2 separate regions of the Homo sapiens genome follow, and region 2 is linked to region 1. The links come from fine-mapping of genetic effects on gene expression. A gene starts in region 1. The other region holds a variant in brackets. All regions are shown on one strand. Distances are from middle to middle.

Region 1 (10,139 bases):
ATGGGAAGAGAATGTTTTGCAGTAATCCAAGGCAGAGGTCACACAAGCATGAATTACTGTGGGGAGGTCTTTGTCTGCTCCAGACCCTGGGACAAATAAAGTAGGGAAAGTGACTTCCAACTAAAGCATTTATCCAGGAATTCGGGGGTGGAAATTGATCCAAGCAATCTTGGCAAATTGTGAAAGCAAAGAGTGACCAATTCTTTTCAACCCAGGAAACTAGGGCAGCCTCTTTCTGCCCCTTTTCCAATCCCGTTATTGGGTCCACTTGAGAAACCCAGATATTTCTTGAGAAAGATTCAGCATAGTTAAATAGCAATGCTTGTATTTATTTATGTTATAAAATGTGGCATAATCACACAAAAATCTCCAATCCTCTCTAGCCAAGGCTCATATACTTTTACATTTGATTTCTCTTACTTTTTCCATGGAGGGTATGACTTAACCAGTCTGAACTTTCAACATTTACTAGTTTTGTACATAATATGAATTTAATTGCTTTTTTCCCCTTTCTTCTTTCTATTAATTTTGGAAGGAGCAAATACAATTCAGGAAACAATATCAAAATATTCCAGATTATACCAGATTGCATAATTATTTACCTATTAAAAGAAAAATACTACCTTGGTTTTGTAAACAGCCTACATGGAAAGACAAAAAAAATAGGTATTTATCCTAATTACAATTCTTTTTGTGTGTGTGTGTGTGTTAAGTGTTTTGTAGTCTTCTTGCTCCCTCTGACCTGAAGTTCCCTTTGAAAAGGAAAAAGTGCTAACTTACTTGGCTTGGAGAAAGGAGAGAGGCTTGGTTCAAAAGTGACTGCCAATTTTTTTCCAACCAGCTGTTAGTCTCCTTAAGAGCAACAGGCAGCTAATGGTTGAATGGACTTCCTTTTGCCAGTTCATCTCCATCTGGGAGAGTTCCCCTCCTTTGTGGAGGTTGAAACAACTTTCTCAGACACAGTTATCCAGGACAGAAGTATTCTCATGCTCAGTTGCACTCTACCAGCTCTGGGGGACATTTGAAAATCTGACAAATGCTTTGTAGTTTCTTGTGATCTTCAAGCATAATCTTAAAAGGCATGTAAGTGTCCAGGAAATACAAGAACCTGAGAAATACTTTGCACACTTACTGTGAACTTGGGGTGTTTTATTATTCTAATCATTGCACCTGACAAAAGATTACTGAGCAGTGCTGAAAATGGAGGCGGGGCGGGTTGCGTTTCTAAGGAAAGAAGCAATTGCAGCTTTAACTTGTGCCAAGGAGTAATTTTGGCTGCTAAAATACTCACTGACCACCACCTGGTGAGCCGTTTGCTCCCACACGTGAATTCTGTTCTGTTCTTGAAAGCAGGATAGGAACCTACACTGTGCATGGCCCTTCTTTTTTCCTTTTTTCAATTGTCATCATCATTGTCATCATCATCATCAGCAGCAGCAGCATTGTTGTAGTCATTACCATTATTACCCATCCAGTTATTTCCACTAACACTGACCAGACTGGCTGTCAAGATCACACAGTGACAAAACAGATGAAAGCCCTTTAATTTGATAAGTTTGAAAGAACAATGGGAAAAGAGTCTGTAAGGCTAACTACTGGTTTTTCACTACCTTGATAATCAAATGAATCATTTCTCCAGGAAAGATTAAGCCTACTTGAGAGTAACCATTTTCTAAATGACGTGATGATGTTGTTAGGAAAGCAAACTTAAGACTGTGTGTGTGTGTGTGTGTGTGTGTGTGTATGAGAGAGAGAAAAAGAGAGAGAAGAAACAGATGGAGAGACAGAGAGAGAACAGACATTGGGATTTGCAGTGTGTAGGTGAATCCCTTTTCTTTCTGTCTCTCTTTCTCTTTCTCTCTCACTATATGCAACCTGTTTTAGAACAAGAGCAGTTACACACCAATGCTCCGAAGTTCTGTGAACCTTAACATTTCCTTTAACCACAAAAAACAATTGCTGAAGCAAACAGGATCTCAGAAAGGCAGTTTAAAAAATACATTGTGAGGATGACTCATTGACTCATTTTTTTTCTTCCCAGATCTTTATAGTGTCCATATATCTAAATGGATTTATATATACTTTTAAGCAAATGCACCTAAATTCTAAATCTGTGTAACCTCTAGGAGAAAGGGATCTTAAAAATGTGTCAATTGCAAGGAAATATAGTTGCCCTAATAACAAGCTTCTGGGCATTTTCCTTTTTTTATGTTACGGAAAACTCATTGTGCCAAAAGCTTTCTGCTTAGGCATGTTAAGTGAGCTGAAAGTATGCGTGAATCCTAGAACAAGCATGAACTTTTACAGGTAGATACATCATTTTGAAGTAAAGACTGGAGACTGGGTAGTAGAATGCTCAGAGAATGTGTAATCAGTCCCCTTGTTTCAGAAGAAGAATGAGGCTCAAAGAAGATAAATGACTTGCCCAAGATCCTCCAGCTATACCACAGCAGGGGCAAGGCTACAACTCAGACTCCTAACAACTTGTTCAGTGCTATATCTGCCACGTTAAACCTCTGAAAAGTTATTTATAAACTGAAGTTCTGTAAATAAGTCCTATTTTGAATCTGAGGTTAACCAGACGTGAAAAAATGGTCACTATTCTATAAACCCATTTTTGTAAATAGACAATAGGGATTCATATGTATTAAGTACTGACCACTATTCTAAAAGCTTTCCCTATCATAACACTTAAGCCACACACAGCCATATGAGGTTTGGACTCCATTTTATAAGTGAGTAAACTGAGGCACAGAGAGATTAGGTAACCTGCTTAAGGTCATAAGTGAATTGGTTGGCAAAGCCTAGACCGTGCAATTCCAGAGCTGAAGCTTTTGACTGTTACCCCACACAGAGCTTGCTTAAAATGAGGCAGCAGCTGGACATGCTTTCACATAAATTGCCAAACATGAGCCACGGCTCTGAAAACTGAATAAAAATACACTGGATGTTGGCCTTGCAAGGATTTTCTCTTTAATCTTTAGGGATTAAGTTAAATGAGATAATCAGTTTGGAAAAGATAAAGCATACCACATTGAAGTGCAACGCAAACATTATGCATCTACTATGAAGATAATCTGTACAACCGATAGGTATTACTGTCCCACTTCACCATTGAGGAGACCAAAGTTAGCTTGTATGGGTACCACGAAGCAGAACCAGAATCTGAGTCTGAATCTCGTTTGACTCCCAACTTATCAACCTGCACTACCTCCCTCACTTCCCACCTCAGAGCTAGCTGGTTACCTAGCTACCTGGAACCTGGGGACCTCAGCCATTCCACTACAACATGGTTAGTGAGGTTACAATAATCACCTTGGAAATGATGAATGCTCAGGAGAGAGAACACACAGGTTCATCCAGCCCTGCTTGGTCTTAACGCTTCCCTTCAGGATGGGGCCACGCATAATCCAGAGTGCAGTGCATCAGCCTATAGAGGGCGCTCTTAAGTATCATAGCCAGATGTAAAAGAGCAAAATTCCTATAGGCAAAGAAATGTGGGCTGGGCGTTTTGGAATGCCATTCCTGGAGGGAGGTGTGGGTGAATGATTGCCAATTTTTCCGTTCTAAGCTTATCTTCATAGTTGTGAGCATTTTTCAGGTCCTCAAAAGAGTTAGTATCTAAGTATAAATTTTCTCTTTAAGGTGTTTGCTTAAAGAGGAAACATCTTTAAGAAGTGAAAGCTGAAGAATGGGGCCTAAGATCAAACTTCAAGGTGTTGGTGGCCTAAACGCCTGCCATCAAAGTAACACAACAGAATGATAACTTGGTAAACAGCAGCGAAGCTCAATAGATATTCTTCAAATTGATTTAAGTTGTGATAAAAACCCAACTAATGATTTTAAATATTTCTGTAGCTAGAACAACATAGCAGAAAGACAACATCAAAATATTAACCATGATTACATTCTACATGACTAGATTACAAGGGGTTCTTTGCGACACTCTAATTTTTCTTCAGCGAACTTGTATTGCTTGGGTAATTACACATACACAAAAACCTTACTACTGTTCCTTTTAAAAAATTACTGAATAGAGTTTTTTAAAAAATTGCTAGACGTAGTTTCTTGCGGAAAATAATCAAATTCACGAGATTCTTGAGTCCAAATTTCCTTTATTTAGGTGGCTCCAAATTCTAAAAAAGCTTTTGCCTATAGCCCAATCTCATAGGCAGCATTTGAACAAAACATCCATCCAATGACTAGATCATCCCTTTAAAATCGCAACCTTTACAGTTAAATTCCAGTGGATAGGTCAAGTCATGGAAAAGCTGCAAGATGAGAACAGAAAACTGAGCAGTGCCAATGGGGATTGGAAGCTACCAGGGCTCCAGTATCCCGACTTGGGAAAAAAGAAAATTGGAAAAGGGAATGGAGGGTTGGAGTGCCAAGTATGTGTGAGGAAGAGTAAGAGAGAAGGACCCAGGCCGGGCATGGTAGCTCACGCCTGTAATCCCAGCACTTTGGGGGGCCAAGGAGGGTGGATCACCTGAAGTCAGGATTTCAAGACCAGCCTGGCCAACATGGCAAAATCCCATCTCTACTAAAAATACAAAAATTAGCTGGGCATGGTGGTGGGCGCCTGTAGTCCCAGCTACTTGGGAGGCTGAGGCAGGAGAATGACTTGAACCCGGGAGACGGAGGTTGCAGTGAGCTGAGATTGCACCACTGCACTCCAGCCTGAGCAACAAAGCAAGACTCTGTCTCAAAAAACAACAACAAAAAAAAAAAAAAAAAAAAAGAGAAGGACCGAGAGAAAGATAGACAGAGAGAGAGAGACAGAGAGAGAGAGAGACAGAAAGAGAGAAGTGCAAATCAAAGCAACATGGTACCATGAAAAACCACTCCTGGTCCATTTATTTAACTTCTTCCCTAGCAGCCCTGCTGTGCTCAAACCACTGTGACAGGCTTTCCTTAAGGTGTTAGACAAGAGATAGCACAGAAGAGAGACAAGGCAAAAAATTTAGTACTATTTTCCAGCCTAAACTAAACCTTTATTTTAGTCATGACTTTAAAAAATGTATTTGCGGGAATGACTCAACCCCTTGTTCCACCCCTTGCCTTGTGTATTCCTTCAGTGCCTAAGTTGATATTTGCAGCCACTACCTCACTCAGGATGCTTTGTTTTTATCATTTCAAAATACTCAAGTCCTTGCCCAAGCTGGGCAAAAGTGTCCAGTGGTGTCAAAACAAAGCAAAGCAGACCGGAGAGCCTCCTGCCAGAAAGATGCATTTACCTTCACCAAAAACATCATCCTCTTCATCGACCAGGAGCTCCTCAGCATCAAAAAACTGCATCTTGGAGAGGACAGGCGCGAGAAGCAGCAGGCAGCAGCCCCGGCAGTCTCAGCAGTCACACTGCCGACCGAGGTGATTTCCTTTCCTTGGGTTGCCCAAGCCCTCTGGAGGGCAGCTTCCGCATCTGCCCTGAAGAAAGCAGTTTCATTCATATGAATAGGCTTCTTGAGCCTTGTGAAGAGTGAATCCCAGGTGGGGTAATTCTCACCACTGAGGAGAAAGAATTTTTTGAAGAGGGCTGCAGATCCGGTTGGATATGAATACAGATATCACTCAAAGTCTGAATGCAATGAATTCTATTTCAAAGCAACAACTTTCATATTTCCTTAAAGAGGAAGGTGGGTGCTTAACTTTCTTGCTTATGAATTTGAACACAATGGGTTTTGTTGAAAGAGGGAGTTCATATTTCTCATATCTTGGTTTTGCTTCAATTACAATTTATCTGAAAGTAAAGCAAGCCACTATGTTAAACCAAAGCAGGCATTTAGAGGACAGAGCTTTTATTTTGCTCAGTAATAGTTGCATTTTTCTTTTCTTTTCTTTTCTTTTTTTCAAACCTCTTGCATTTAAGGATTGGAAACTTTACAGCATTTAAACCAAACTGAACCATATCTAGGCTTTATGTGGCTCGATTAAATCTATAGTCAATGAATAGATAACTGGTTTTGGTCAAACATCTTGCATTTCACAATATTTACTCAGTTTGATACTTCAGACTGTATCACTAAAGGAGAAAGAAGAAAATGTAACTCAAAAAGCAGTCCTCCCAAAGGGATGAGTGAACACTGAGCTTCTACGCGAGCACCATTGGCTGGCATCACCATATCGAGCTACCCAACGTGTGCCAAATTCTGTCTGGCTGCACAAACAAACACACATCTCTCTGAGTAATACTGAGACTTCATTTCGGGGTTTCCCAGAGCACTCCACTGTGTTGTAAGATCTCTTAGGTGGCCAGAAGCTTAGAAAATGCAAATGGAGATGACAGTGAGGAGCTGTTGACCCAAGGTGTTTATTTTTGGCACTTTATTTACTGCATGGTTTTGAAGATACTCCCAGTGTTACCCTAGAGAAACTGTCCCCTCCTCCTGTAACTGCAACCTTGAAATTGCACCATTTTCTCCCAGAAGAGACTGTGGACAACAGGGTTGGAGAAATCCAGCAGTGAGAAGGGATCACCCCAGAGGAATTCAGGAATCAGACACTGAGGGTTAACTGAGCAGCAACAGTCAGTTCATCCCTGCATTGGTGGCTGCAGCAGTTCCCAAAGACAGTGTACAGCTTGGGTCCTGCTGGGATCACCAATTGTTGTCAATCAGGGCTGGAACCATCCTTAGAGGAGAGCTTGGAAATGTCTGGGGTGTTTTGGGTGGCACAATGACTGGGGGTTATTACTGGTATTTAATGTCTTAGCACTCAGGGGCCCAGGGATATCAACCTTACCATAATGCATGGAACAGTAGCTCAACAGGAAGAACTGTCCAGCTCCAAATACCAATAATGCCCACCTTGAGACACACTGACAGGCAGAGAACTGGAGTTATCCTTTTCTCTAGCTCTCCTTTGCATCTCCCCTTTCTGACCCTTTTACCACCCCCTACCATGATCCCCACTTGAATGATGTTTCTGGACAAGGGTTGCACTTAGTTACATAAATTAAATTAATTAAAATGGGCCTAGGTGTAGGAAATTTGGATGTGGACTAAAGCTCTCTTTTGTGTGGTTGGGATAAGAGGATGGGTGTCCATTTTGATAATCACTACATTTCTCAACTACTGTCCTATGTCCTTTAATCTCCACAACTTCATGAGGTGGGTGCTATTATCCCATTTTACAGATGAAGCAATGGGGGCTCTGAGGGCTTGAAAAACATTCCTAAGATCAGGCAGCTAGTGAGTGGCAGATTTGACTAATTCCAGAGCTCACTCTGTTACCTCATGTCTGGACAACTTATGGGAGTGACTGCACACAGTCCAGTTCACTGCAGCATCCCCGTGGCTCTTGGGGACCTGCACTACCTCCCTCACCTCCCACCTCAGAACTACCTGGTTACCACGTGAACCTGAGGGCCCTAGCTATTCCACTTCAAAAAGTTAGCATAACCTCTGTAGGCCTGTTTCATTTTAAGTGGGTGGAATTGTGTCTCCCCTGTTGAATTCATATGTTGAAGTCCTAACCCCCAGTACCTCAGAATGTGACCTTACTTAGAAACAGGGCCATTGAAGATATAATTAGTTAGGATGAACTTATATCATATTGGAGGAGGATGGGTCCTTAATCCAATATGACTAACTTCCTCATAAAAAGGAGAGATTTAGACAAAGACATAGACATAGGGAGGATAGTATGTGAAGATGAAGGCAGAGATCCACAAGCCAAGGAACACCAAAGACTGCCAGTAAACCACCATGAGCTAGGGGAGAGGCCTGCAAGAGATTCTCCCTCACATCCCTCAGAAGAACCAATCCTGCCAACACCTTGACCTTGGACTTCTAGCCTCCACAGCTGTGATGCAGTAAGTTTCTGTTGCTTAAGCCACCCAGTTTGTGGTACTTCATTACAGAAGTCCTAGAAAATAATATACTTTCTCATTTGGCTTGTTTTGAGGATTAAGTAGGATAATTTATGTAAAGAAGCTGACACAGTACATGGTACACAGTAAATACCCAGTTATAATTATACGCCTAAGTCTCTCACAGGGACGCTTAGGATATTTCCCAAATTGAAGGCTCAATGGGGATAGAGAATGAGAAGTCACCACACTCCATATAAAACCTCAATAACCCTTAGGAAGTTTCCCTCAGTCTCCTCTTCTCCAATTTAGATATCTCAGAAACACAGCTAATCATCTCAAAGAACAAATCACAAATGCTACCACGAACTCCTTGAAAGCACAGAGGATAGAAAACATGGTTCTTGCTCTCCAAAGTTTACAATTACCTTAGAGAGATATGACATACATGCATGATGTGTTAACTAAAAAGAAAAATTAATAAACTACATATGCATGCATCAATATGGATGAGTTTCAAAAACATAATATTGACTTTGAAAGGTCTCAGAAAATTATAAATGGTATAATTATATTTATATGAGTGTCCAAAATGAGCAAATAAAAAAATGTAGGTAATCGCTAACACAGAGTGCCAGCAACAGTTTTAAGTGCTTTGATTCACTTAATTCCTATATCAACCCTAAGATATAGATATATTTATTATCTCTATTTTAGTTTAAGGCCCAAGAGGTGAAGTGATCCACCCAAGGTCATACATTTGGTAAGTGGTAGAGGTACTGAGATTTGATCCCAGAGTCCAAACTCTTAAACACCAGGCTACACTATCTCTTATCTATGTAAAGTCTAAAAGAATGCTGAGCTTATATAAAATTTTAACAAAGTGCAATAAACTGTGAAGAAGTGACTAGACAAAGGAGGCAGAGTAGGGGAGTGGGCTCCTAAGAGTGGCAAATTGTGGGAAGGTAACTAGGAATGTATGATAGCTAAGGATTGTTATGCAGACTCATCTCTCATATCAGGAAGAGGACCATGAGGCTTAGTCACCCAAGATGGGAAATAAAACACCTTTACAAGTGGAAATTTATGGCACTTAAAGCAGAAAGGAGAAGGGCAGAAGATTCTTTCTCAAAAATAGCTCAAAATAGTACTTATGCTAAATTAGCATATTTTGGGGGACACATTCTGATCCCCTTCGAATCCATATTAGAAAAGAAAGACTAAAGATAGGGAAATTCAGTGCTTAGTTAAGGGAGATGTAGGTCACAGAGAGTAGTTTTCACTAAGAAATGAGGAGTAAGTCTGAAACAACAATGAAAGAATCTTGCTTTTCAGTGATTGAGGCAAACAGCTCCAATAATTGGATTTGGGGAAGAGAACAAAAGTATAGATGAACCAGTATAAGGCAACTACTTTGATCAAATGGTGATTTGTGACAACCTGTACTAAATTTAACAGCAGAATTTCATCAAGGTCATAAGCACAGGAACATAGCAAAGCTTTTATACTCCAAAGAGTTGGTGCCCACTTTATGCCATACTAGGTCTGTGAATTACAATGATATGAAAGGTCTGGTCCTTGCTTTGTGGAACTTTACTCACTTCATTCATTTGGAGAATAGTAATGAATACCTACTATATTTCAGGTATGGTGTGAAATATTTAAGTAAATATATAAGTGAGAAGGCATGTGTTGTGTTGAACATATGAATATCAACACAGTATTATTATTTTGAGTTATGAGAATTGAGGCTATAATAATTAATAATTTATTAATTTAAAATATTTCTGCATAGTTTGCTGTTTTGAAAAAAAATACCACCTGTGAAGCGTGTACAGGAGGAAACCATACTAGTGGAAAAATTTCAACATCCAACGTGGGCTTTTATTCCAACAGAAGAGCCTCACAATCTTCTCTCTGTGCTTCTGGAGAATTTCCCACTCCTTTCAGAAAGTGTTTTAAAATACTTAATTTTCAGATATACAAACTTCTGAACAGGGAGAAAAACCTGAACTAATTAGGAGCAAAATGTTCGAAACAGAAAGGAGAACAAAGTAGGAGAGAGGAATTGAAACTGTGAGGAGTGGTAGGAATCAGAAAAGAAAAAGGTGAAAAAAACCACAGAGTCAGAAATAATCTTATCTTTGGGTAACTTTGCCAGTAAAGATGCACCTAAAAATTTGTCTAATTTGTCTAACTGTAAAATGCCATGTCTAAAGAGCTGGGACAAAAGGAATACGATTTTTTTTTTTTGAAACAGAGTCTGTCTCTGTCGCTCAGGCTGGCGTGCAGTGGCTCGACCTTGGCTCACTGCAACCTCCACCTCCCG
Region 2 (10,139 bases), 130 kb before region 1:
TTTTGCCAGGTTCTGCAGGCAAACTTTTATTTGAAGATATTCTTTTTTGTGCTTTGTATTGAAAGTAAAGTTAGGTAGCTAAGGGGACTACTCAACCCTGAGAACACGACCGAGAAAAACTGCAAGGCATATGATGTTTGTCGAAGTATCACATGACTATTTCAAGCTTATAGAGAAACTTGCAAAAAAGTACAAAGATGGCTATTTTTAAATTTCATACATATTAAGATAAGATGGACTCTTTCACTGAGTATTATTAGACACAATCGACGATGTAATATATTTGAATTATACCATAGCCCTATTCTATATTGGCCAAAGGAAAAGTAGATAGGTACTGTGAAACGAGACTCTGAATTCTTTCTATAACATGTTTTTTTAGTTGTTGTTGTTGTTTTGTTTTTTGAGACAGGGTTTTGCTCTGTCACCCAGTCTGGAGTGCAGTGGGGCAATTATGGCTCACTGCAGCCTGAATCTTCTGGGCTCAAGCAATCCTCCCACCTTAGCCTCCCAAGTAGCTGGGACTACAGGTGCATGCCACCACGCCTGACTAATTAAACTATTTTTTTTGTAGAGACAGGGCCTTGCTATGTTGCCCAGGTTGGTCTTGAACCTCCTGGGCTTAAGCAATTCTCCTGCGTTGGCCTCCCAAAGTACTGGGATTACAGGCATGAGCCACTGCACCTGGCCTACATTTTTATTTCAGTTGTCGTGTCTCTCAGGCTCTAAACAATTTCCAGCCCAAACCACAGCACCATCCTGATGAAAAGGGCCAGATATTAAGACAGCTGTTAGGCAGTTAACCTGTAATTAAAAGGCTGTGGCAACTTCAGTTCCATGACGACCTCCGACTTTAACACAGTCTCGAGGAAATTTGTCCAATTGTTCATATGCCAGCCGCCCATCTTCTCCTAAATACAGAACATTAAACATGAATACCAATTCAAACAACGTTTTTATTAATTACTCAAAGTAACATAGTGCCATTTGTTTAGGGATGGGTTGCTATAATATGCTATGCTAACTTTTGGTAAGGAAAAGTTATCTTTTGTTATTCCTAATTATGTCATTGTTTTCCAGGTAATGCTTAGAACAACCAAGAACTTTTGAGCTAATTAATGCCAGAGACCAAAAGAATGCCAGGGTATGAAACAGAGTAGAAGTCTTATGGCCATTTGATGTTGATGATTTCATATAATCGATTTATTTTAGAGCAATTGTATGGATTATATTTTAAGTACATTAGGGATTTCAATATGGCTAATGCACTGAACTTTTACATAACTTTTACTTGTATACATTATATATCGATACATCTAAATGATATGTGGTAAAATCAATCTTAGGCTTTCAAACTTCAGCTAAAAATTACTTTTTACTATGTAAACATACAGAGATGCCTTCTACCAGCCACCAGCTAGTTCAGTTTTGTCCGTAACGCCACCTTGAACAGTTAGGATGCAATTGCAAATAATTTTAATGTTTTGTTCTATTTTTCTACTTTAAAAAATGATTTAGAAAATGAGAAAATAAAATGCAAAGACAAGTGATAAGAAGCAGGCTTTCATACATGTAATGCAAGTGAGACAAAGATGGAAATAGTTGTGCCTAATCAGAAGTTCAGCTGGGTGTGGTGGCTCACACCTGTAACCCCAGAACTTTGGGAAGCCAAGGTGAGTGGATCACTTGAGGTCACGAGTTTGAGACCAGCCTGATCAACACAGTGAAACCCCATCTCTACCAAAAAATACAAAAAAAGAGTTAGCTGGGTGTGGTGGAATCCACCTGTAGTCCCAGCTACTTGGGAGGCTGAGGCAGGAGAATTGCTTGAACTCGGGGGCAGAGGTTGCAATGAGACGAGATTGCATCATTGCACTCCAGCCTGGGTGATAGAGAGAGACTCCATGTTTAAGGTAGGCTAGGCTAAGCTATGATGTTCTGCAAGTAAGATGTATTAAGTGCATTTTTGACTTAACAGTATTTTCAACTTACAACGGGTTTATTGGGATGTAACCCCATTGTAAGTCAAGGAGCAGCTATCCTCAAAATTGAGTAAACTTAAAACTTCAGTTCCTCCATGGTGGCAAAGGTGAACAGCCCAACAGCCATTTAGGATGGCTGCTGTCATACTGGACAGTGCGCATATAGAACAATCCCATCACCATGGAGGGATCTGTTGGACAGCTCTAGGTTAAAATGTCGAAATCATTCCATACTAGTTGGTAAATAGTTGCAGCCCTGAGTCCTTTAAGTGCCCGCAATGACCTTCTGCCCTTTGTCATAGGGCATTTTATCAATTCCTATTGAAAATACTATCCTCACTATATTAATTCAGTCATTTGTGTAAGAGAAAAATGTGCCAGTATTTGTGTATTAGGGTCAAAGAAGATTCATAATATTGACTTCAGGGGGGTCTCAAACTTTATATTAGAATCACCTGGGAGGCTTCAAAAAATCCTTAAAAAATCCTGATGCCAAGGAACACTTAGACCAATGAAAGCAGAATCTTTGGGAGTAGATTGTTTAAGCTTCCCTGGCAAATGTGCAGCCAGTGTTGAGCACTGCACACTGGTGGTGTGAGAGGGCCCAGGGCTGATATGAGCAGTGTGCATGAAGAGCTAAGGTGAAGCAGGTATGGTGATGGCTTCTGGAGATGCTGCTGTTTGCACAGCTCCAGTGAGGCCCGGGGCACATTCTGTAGGATCAGCTTCCTTAGGTTACACTGGAAATAGAAGCTTCGTTGGCTATGCTTTATAAGCGCCTGGCTTACCTTCATGGTTATTTTAGAATATGAAGGGATAAAGGAGTTTAAACTAATAATACCTTGGTACATTTTTAGAGAATTAAATAATTTCTATGCCTAATACAACCATAAGGAATAACTTTTATTCTTTAAACAAATATATACTGGCTAAGATTTCTGTGGAAGAAATCATATATTCAATAGCAGAATGAAGCCTTGTTAAACCCATAATTGTAAGAAAGAGGGCCTAACAATAAATGGGATTTTCACAGTGATTATAAATGCCATGAGATTCTTCTTCATGTTGTTAAGTTAGTATCACTAAACAAGGGTAGCTTTTTTCTAAGCTGCAGTATTGATTGGATTATGTCTGAGGATTTCTAGGAGCATAGTTTTTATACTTTAAGATTGTGTTGTTGAAGTAAAATTATTTATAATAATTATTTATACTTTTTTCTTTTTTTTTTTTTTTGAGACAGAGTCTTGCTCTGTCACCCAGGCTGGAATACAGTGGCATGATCTCAGCTCACTGCAACCTCCGTTTCCTGGGTTCAAGTGATTCTCCTACCTCAGCCTCCCAAGTAGCTGGGACTACAGGTGCACCCCACCACACCTGGCTAATTTTTGTATTTTTAGTAGATACATGGTTTCATCATGTTGGCCAGGCTGGTCTCGAACTCTTGACCTCAAGTGATCCACTCACCTTGGCCTCCCAAAGTGCTGGGGTTACAGGGGTGAGCCACCAAACCCAGCTATTTATACTTTTTAATACAGAGTTAAGAAAGGCTTTCCCCACCCTCCCAAGTCCCCAAAAAAGAATAAATGTATAATGCCTGCTAGGCATGAACCTTCATAAAATAAAGTGAAGAGGAAGGATTATCTGGATATTTCAGAATAAAATAAGTACTCCAATTCTTTTCTTAGGTATCAGGGCTCAGATGGGCAGAGGCCACAGGGCAGTCAGAGGTTAACCTGGGAGTCAGGGTGAGGCTGAGATACCTGGGGATTTACAGCATTCCCTGGGATGCATCTCTGGTACCTCACCCAATTTCTGTCCTCCAGGGAATGTCAACCCCACCTGGCAACACAGCCTGGATTCCTATTGCCTTTGCTTTATGGTTTGACTTCTGTGTTCTTGATTCTAAATAGTACACAGACTGATCAATCCATATAGAAAGTCTCCAGACAATATAGTTCACTCTCAGCATCCAGACAGAACAAGGAGTTGGGGTGAGATAGACACTGATCAGTTCTTCGTACTCTGTGTGTGAGAAGACAGCCTACAGCGGGGAAACTGCTAAACAGGGTACATGAAACTTCTCCTTACTGGAGAAGGGAACATCTAAATGGGAACATCCGTTAGAGAGTGCCAGAAGCAAACAATCATGTAAACAACAACAATAAAACTCACCCAGAGACAAGAGGGTTTCTGAGGCCACATTTCTGATTTCTTCAGTATCAGATTGACACAATGTCACCAGCATTTTAATGCTTTCAGTAGCCTATGGGGGAAAAATAGGTTAAATCGTGTTTTGACATTTAGGTCTAGAGTACCACGAGACTTGGCATTTCACAACTGGTGGGAACTTTAGCCTCACTTTGTTGCCCAGGCTGGAGTGCAATGGAGCAATCATAGCTCACTGCAGCCTTGACCTCCTGGGCTCAAGCAATTCTCCTGCCTCAGCCTCCTGAGTAGCCAGGACTGATTTTTAATTTTTAACCTTTGGTACAGATGAGGTCTCACTATGTTGCCCAGGCTAGTCGAATTCTTCTGCCTTGGCCTCCTAATGTGGTGGGATTACAGGTGTAAGCCACTGTGCCCGGCCAGCTGGTAGGAATGCTAAAAACCACTTTACCTATGGGGTCAAACCTAGCTGAGTGTCTGAAACCCAATATTCCTGGGTGCCACTCCGGATGCACTATATCAGAATTTCCTGGGATGGGGCCCAGAGTTCTTACTTTCAGGAATTCTGATGATCAGCTAAATTCCTCATTCCACAGCACACTCCTGGTCTAGAGGAGTGAAGTGACGAGCTTGCTTTTCCAGAGTAGAATCCATTTTCCCTGGTTCTTTCCACTGAATCTCACTGATTCCAAAATGGCTCTAATTAAAAAATTCTTACTATTTAGTTTATATGCTAAAATAGAGGAGGAGGTAAAGGCCATTAATGACAATTCTTCTATTTGTTTGTTCCACAAATATTTATTGAGCACTCCATGAACCAGACTATTCATAAGGCATGAGAGATTCCACAGTAAACCAGACATGGTTCTGGTCCTCAAGAATTTACAGTCTAGTGGATTCAGAGTATGAAAACCCATGCAGATCACTGTATCCTTATGTCTTTATTTACTTTGTCTGTATCACAGACATCTGTCACTGATATATCACTGGATATCAGGAAAGCACCCAAATAGCAATCACTGTGGGCTTTCTATTTGGGCACCTGAAGGTAATTTTTTTTTTAACCAAGTAACAAGGCAAAATTTCCTACAGCTGTTTCTTTTTTTTTCTTTGAGACAGAGTCTCATTCAGTCACCCAGACTGGAGTACAGTGGCGTGATCTTGGCTCACTGCAACTTCTGTCTCCTGGGTTCAAGCGATTCTCCTGCCTCAGCCTCCTGAGTAGCTGGGATTACAGGTGTGCGCCACCACGCCTGGCTAATTTTTGTGTTTTCAGTAAGGATGAGGTTTCACCATGTTGGCCAGGCTGGTCTCAAACTC[CT/C]GACCTCAGGTGATCCACCGGCCTCAGCCTCCCAAAGTGCTGGGATTACAGGCATGAGCCACCATGCCTGGCCCTAGAGCTGTTTTTGATCACAGGCCATTAACTTTTTCTTTTGAGGTATTAATTCCTTTCTTTATCAGGCCTGCAGCTCTTTTCCAAGATTTTGGCAAGTTCTAAGGTGTGGCCTTCTCTCATTCTTTTTTTTTTTTTTTTTTTTTTTTTTTGAGATGGAGTCTCTGTCGCCCAGGTTGGAGTGCAGTGGTGCAATCTTGGCTCACTGAAACCTCTGTCTCCTGGATTCAAGCGATTCTCCTGCCTCAGCCTCCCCAGTAGCTGGGATTACAGGTGTGTGCCACCATGCCTGGCTAATTTTTTTTGTATTTTTAGTAGAGACGGGGTTTCATCATGTTGACCAGGCTGGTCTCGATCTCCTGACCTCAAGTGATACGCCTGCCTCAGCCTTCCAAAGTGCTGGGATTACAGGCATGAGCCACTGCACCTGGCCTTCTCTCATTCTTTTCTCAAGACTGATTTGTCTTATTTTTTTGTGATGAAAGTAGGTCAAACATTACATCTTGCCATTGAAAGGGAAACATCCATGTCAGGAGTTCCCATTCGTTTAGTACTTTTTTTTTTTTTTTTTTCTTTTTTTTTTTTTTAATTATACTCTAAGTTTTAGGGTACATGTGCACATTGTGCAGGTTAGTTACATATGTATACATGTGCCATGCTGGTGCGCTGCATCCACTAATGTGTCATCTAGCATTAGGTATATCTCCCAATGCTATCCCTCCCCCCTCCCCCGACCCCACCACAGTCCCCAGAGTGTGATATTCCCCTTCCTGTGTCCATGTGATCTCATTGTTCAATTCCCACCTATGAGTGAGAATATGCGGTGTTTGGTTTTTTGTTCTTGCGATAGTTTACTGAGAATGATGGTTTCCATTTTCATCCATGTCCCTACAAAGGATATGAACTCATCATTTTTTATGGCTGCATAGTATTCCATGGTGTATATGTGCCACATTTTCTTAATCCAGTCTATCATTGTTGGACATTTGGGTTGGTTCCAAGTCTTTGCTATTGTGAATAGTGCCGCAATAAACATACGTGTGCATGTGTCTTTATAGCAGCATGATTTATACTCATTTGGGTATATACCCAGTAATGGGATGGCTGGGTCAAATGGTATTTCTAGTTCTAGATCCCTGAGGAATCGCCACACTGACTTCCACAATGGATGAACTAGTTTACAGTCCCACCAACAGTGTAAAAGTGTTCCTATTTCTCCGCATCCTCTCCAGCACCTGTTTCCTGACTTTTTAATGATTGCCATTCTAACTGGTGTGAGATGATATCTCATAGTGGTTTTGATTTGCATTTCTCTGATGGCCAGTGATGATGAGCATTTCTTCATGTGTTTTTTGGCTGCATAAATGTCTTCTTTTGAGAAGTGTCTGTTCATGTCCTTCGCCCACTTTTTGATGGGGTTGTTTGTTTTTTTCTTGTAAATTTGTTTGAGTTCATTGTAGATTCTGGATATTAGCCCTTTGTCAGATGAGTAGGTTGCGAAAATTTTCTCCCATGTTGTAGGTTGCCTGTTCACTCTGATGGTAGTTTCTTTTGCTGTGCAGAAGCTCTTTAGTTTAATTAGATCCCATTTGTCAATTTTGTCTTTTGTTGCCATTGCTTTTGGTGTTTTGGACATGAAGTCCTTGCCCACGCCTATGTCCTGAATGGTAATGCCTAGGTTTTCTTCTAGGGTTTTTATGGTTTTAGGTTTAACGTTTAAATCTTTAATCCATCTTGAATTGATTTTTGTATAAGGTGTAAGGAAGGCATCCAGTTTGAGCTTTCTACATATGGCTAGCCAGTTTTCCCAGCACCATTTATTAAATAGGGAATCCTTTCCCCATTGCTTGTTTTTCTCAGGTTTGTCGAAGATCAGATAGTTGTAGATATGCGGCATTATTTCTGAGGGCTCTGTTCTGTTCCATTGATCTATATCTCTGTTTTGGTACCAGTACCATGCTGTTTTGGTTACTGTAGCCTTGTAGTATAGTTTGAAGTCAGGTAGTGTGATGCCTCCAGCTTTGTTCTTTTGGCTTAGGATTGACTTGGCAATGCGGGCTCTTTTTTGGTTCCATATGAACTTTAAAGTAGTTTTTTCCAATTCTGTGAAGAAAGTCATTGGTAGCTTGATGGGGATGGCATTGAATCTGTAAATTACCTTGGGCAGTATGGCCATTTTCACGATATTGATTCTTCCTACCCATGAGCATGGAATGTTCTTCCATTTGTTTGTATCCTCTTTTATTTCCTTGAGCAGTGGTTTGTAGTTCTCCTTGAAGAGGTCCTTCACATCCCTTGTAAGTTGGATTCCTAGGTATTTTATTCTCTTTGAAGCAATTGTGAATGGGAGTTCACCCATGATTTGGCTCTCTGTTTGTCTGTTGTTGGTGTATAAGAATGCTTGTGATTTTTGTACATTGATTTTGTATCCTGAGACTTTGCTGAAGTTGCTTATCAGCTTAAGGAGATTTTGGGCTGAGACGATGGGGTTTTCTAGATAAACAATCATGTCGTCTGCAAACAGGGACAATTTGACTTCCTCTTTTCCTAATTGAATACCCTTTATTTCCTTCTCCTGCCTGATTGCCCTGGCCAGAACTTCCAACACTATGTTGAATAGGAGTGGTGAGAGAGGGCATCCCTGTCTTGTGCCAGTTTTCAAAGGGAATGCTTCCAGTTTTTGCCCATTCAGTATGATATTGGCTGTGGGTTTGTCATAGATAGCTCTTATTATTTTGAAATACGTCCCATCAATACCTAATTTATTGAGAGTTTTTAGCATGAAGGGTTGTTGAATTTTGTCAAAGGCTTTTTCTGCATCTATTGAGATAATCATGTGGTTTTTGTCTTTGGCTCTGTTTATATGCTGGATTACATTTATTGATTTGCGTATATTGAACCAGCCTTGCATCCCAGGGATGAAGCCCACTTGATCATGGTGGACAAGCTTTTTGATGTGCTGCTGAATTCGGTTTGCCAGTATTTTATTGAGGATTTTTGCATCAATGTTCATCAAGGATATTGGTCTAAAATTCTCTTTTTTGGTTGTGTCTCTGCCCGGCTTTGGTATCAGAATGATGCTGGCCTCATAAAATGAGTTAGGGAGGATTCCCTCTTTTTCTATTGATTGGAATAGTTTCAGAAGGAATGGTACCAGTTCCTCCTTGTACCTCTGGTAGAATTCGGCTGTGAATCCATCTGGTCCTGGACTCTTTTTGGTTGGTAAACTATTGATTATTGCCACAATTTCAGAGCCTGTTATTGGTCTATTCAGAGATTCAACTTCTTCCTGGTTTAGTCTTGGGAGAGTGTATGTGTCGAGGAATGTATCCATTTCTTCTAGATTTTCTAGTTTATTTGCGTAGAGGTGTTTGTAGTATTCTCTGATGGTAGTTTGTATTTCTGTGGGATCGGTGGTGATATCCCCTTTATCATTTTTTATTGTGTCTATTTGATTCTTCTCTCTTTTTTTCTTTATTAGTCTTGCTAGCGGTCTATCAATTTTGTTGATCCTTTCAAAAAACCAGCTCCTGGATTCATTGATTTTTTGAAGGGTTTTTTGTGTCTCTATTTCCTTCAGTTCTGCTCTGATTTTAGTTATTTCTTGCCTTCTGCTAGCTTTTGAATGTGTTTGCTCTTGCTTTTCTAGTTCTTTTAATTGTGATGTTAGGGTGTCAATTTTGGATCTTTCCTGCTTTCTCTTGTAGGCATTTAGTGCTATAAATTTCCCTCTACACACTGCTTTGAATGCGTCCCAGAGATTCTGGTATGTGGTGTCTTTGTTCTCGTTGGTTTCAAAGAACATCTTTATTTCTGCCTTCATTTCGTTATGTACCCAGTAGTCATTCAGGAGCAGGTTGTTCAGTTTCCATGTAGTTGAGCGGCTTTGAGTGAGATTCTTAATCCTGAGTTCTAGTTTGATTGCACTGTGGTCTGAGAGATAGTTTGTTATAATTTCTGTTCTTTTACATTTGCTGAGGAGAGCTTTACTTCCAACTATGTGGTCAATTTTGGAATAGGTGTGGTGTGGTGCTGAAAAAAATGTATATTCTGTTGATTTGGGGTGGAGAGTTCTGTAGATGTCTATTAGGTCTGCTTGGTGCAGAGCTGAGTTCAATTCCTGGGTATCCTTGTTGACTTTCTGTCTCGTTGATCTGTCTAATGTTGACAGTGGGGTGTTAAAGTCTCCCATTATTAATGTGTGGGAGTCTAAGTCTCTTTGTAGGTCACTGAGGACTTGCTTTATGAATCTGGGTGCTCCTGTATTGGGTGCATAAATATTTAGGATAGTTAGCTCCTCTTGTTGAATTGATCCCTTTACCATTATGTAATGGCCTTCTTTGTCTCTTTTGATCTTTGTTGGTTTAAAGTCTGTTTTATCAGAGACTAGGATTGCAACCCCTGCCTTTTTTTGTTTTCCATTGGCTTGGTAGATCTTCCTCCATCCTTTTATTTTGAGCCTATGTGTGTCTCTGCACGTGAGATGGGTTTCCTGAATACAGGACACTGATGGGTCTTGACTCTTTATCCAACTTGCCAGTCTGTGTCTTTTAATTGCAGAATTTAGTCCGTTTATATTTAAAGTTAATATTGTTATG

The links. PIP is the estimated chance that this variant, and not a neighbour inherited with it, causes the effect.
Region 2: its variant is fine-mapped to the expression of RIPOR2 in whole blood (TOPMed, PIP above 0.99).

What each region holds. Positions count from the first base shown.
Region 1 is chr6:24,930,601-24,940,739 of GRCh38, forward strand. RIPOR2 (RHO family interacting cell polarization regulator 2) reads right to left here and starts at 5,360. Exons shown (of 22, transcript NM_001286445.3): 1 at 5,238-5,360. The coding sequence starts at 5,298. LOC105374981 (a long non-coding RNA gene) reads left to right here and starts at 3,375. Exons shown (of 3, transcript XR_007059514.1): 1 at 3,375-3,464; 2 at 3,646-3,770. RefSeq lists an enhancer at 6,073-6,242.
Region 2 is chr6:24,805,563-24,815,701 of GRCh38, forward strand. It overlaps RIPOR2 (RHO family interacting cell polarization regulator 2), which reads right to left. Exons shown (of 22, transcript NM_001286445.3): 21 at 4,155-4,245; 22 at 1-911. The coding sequence ends at 811. Among named protein-coding and RNA genes, the nearest start is that of ARMH2, 12 kb to the left of the region's middle. The variant CT/C (reference allele first, on the strand shown) is at 5,469.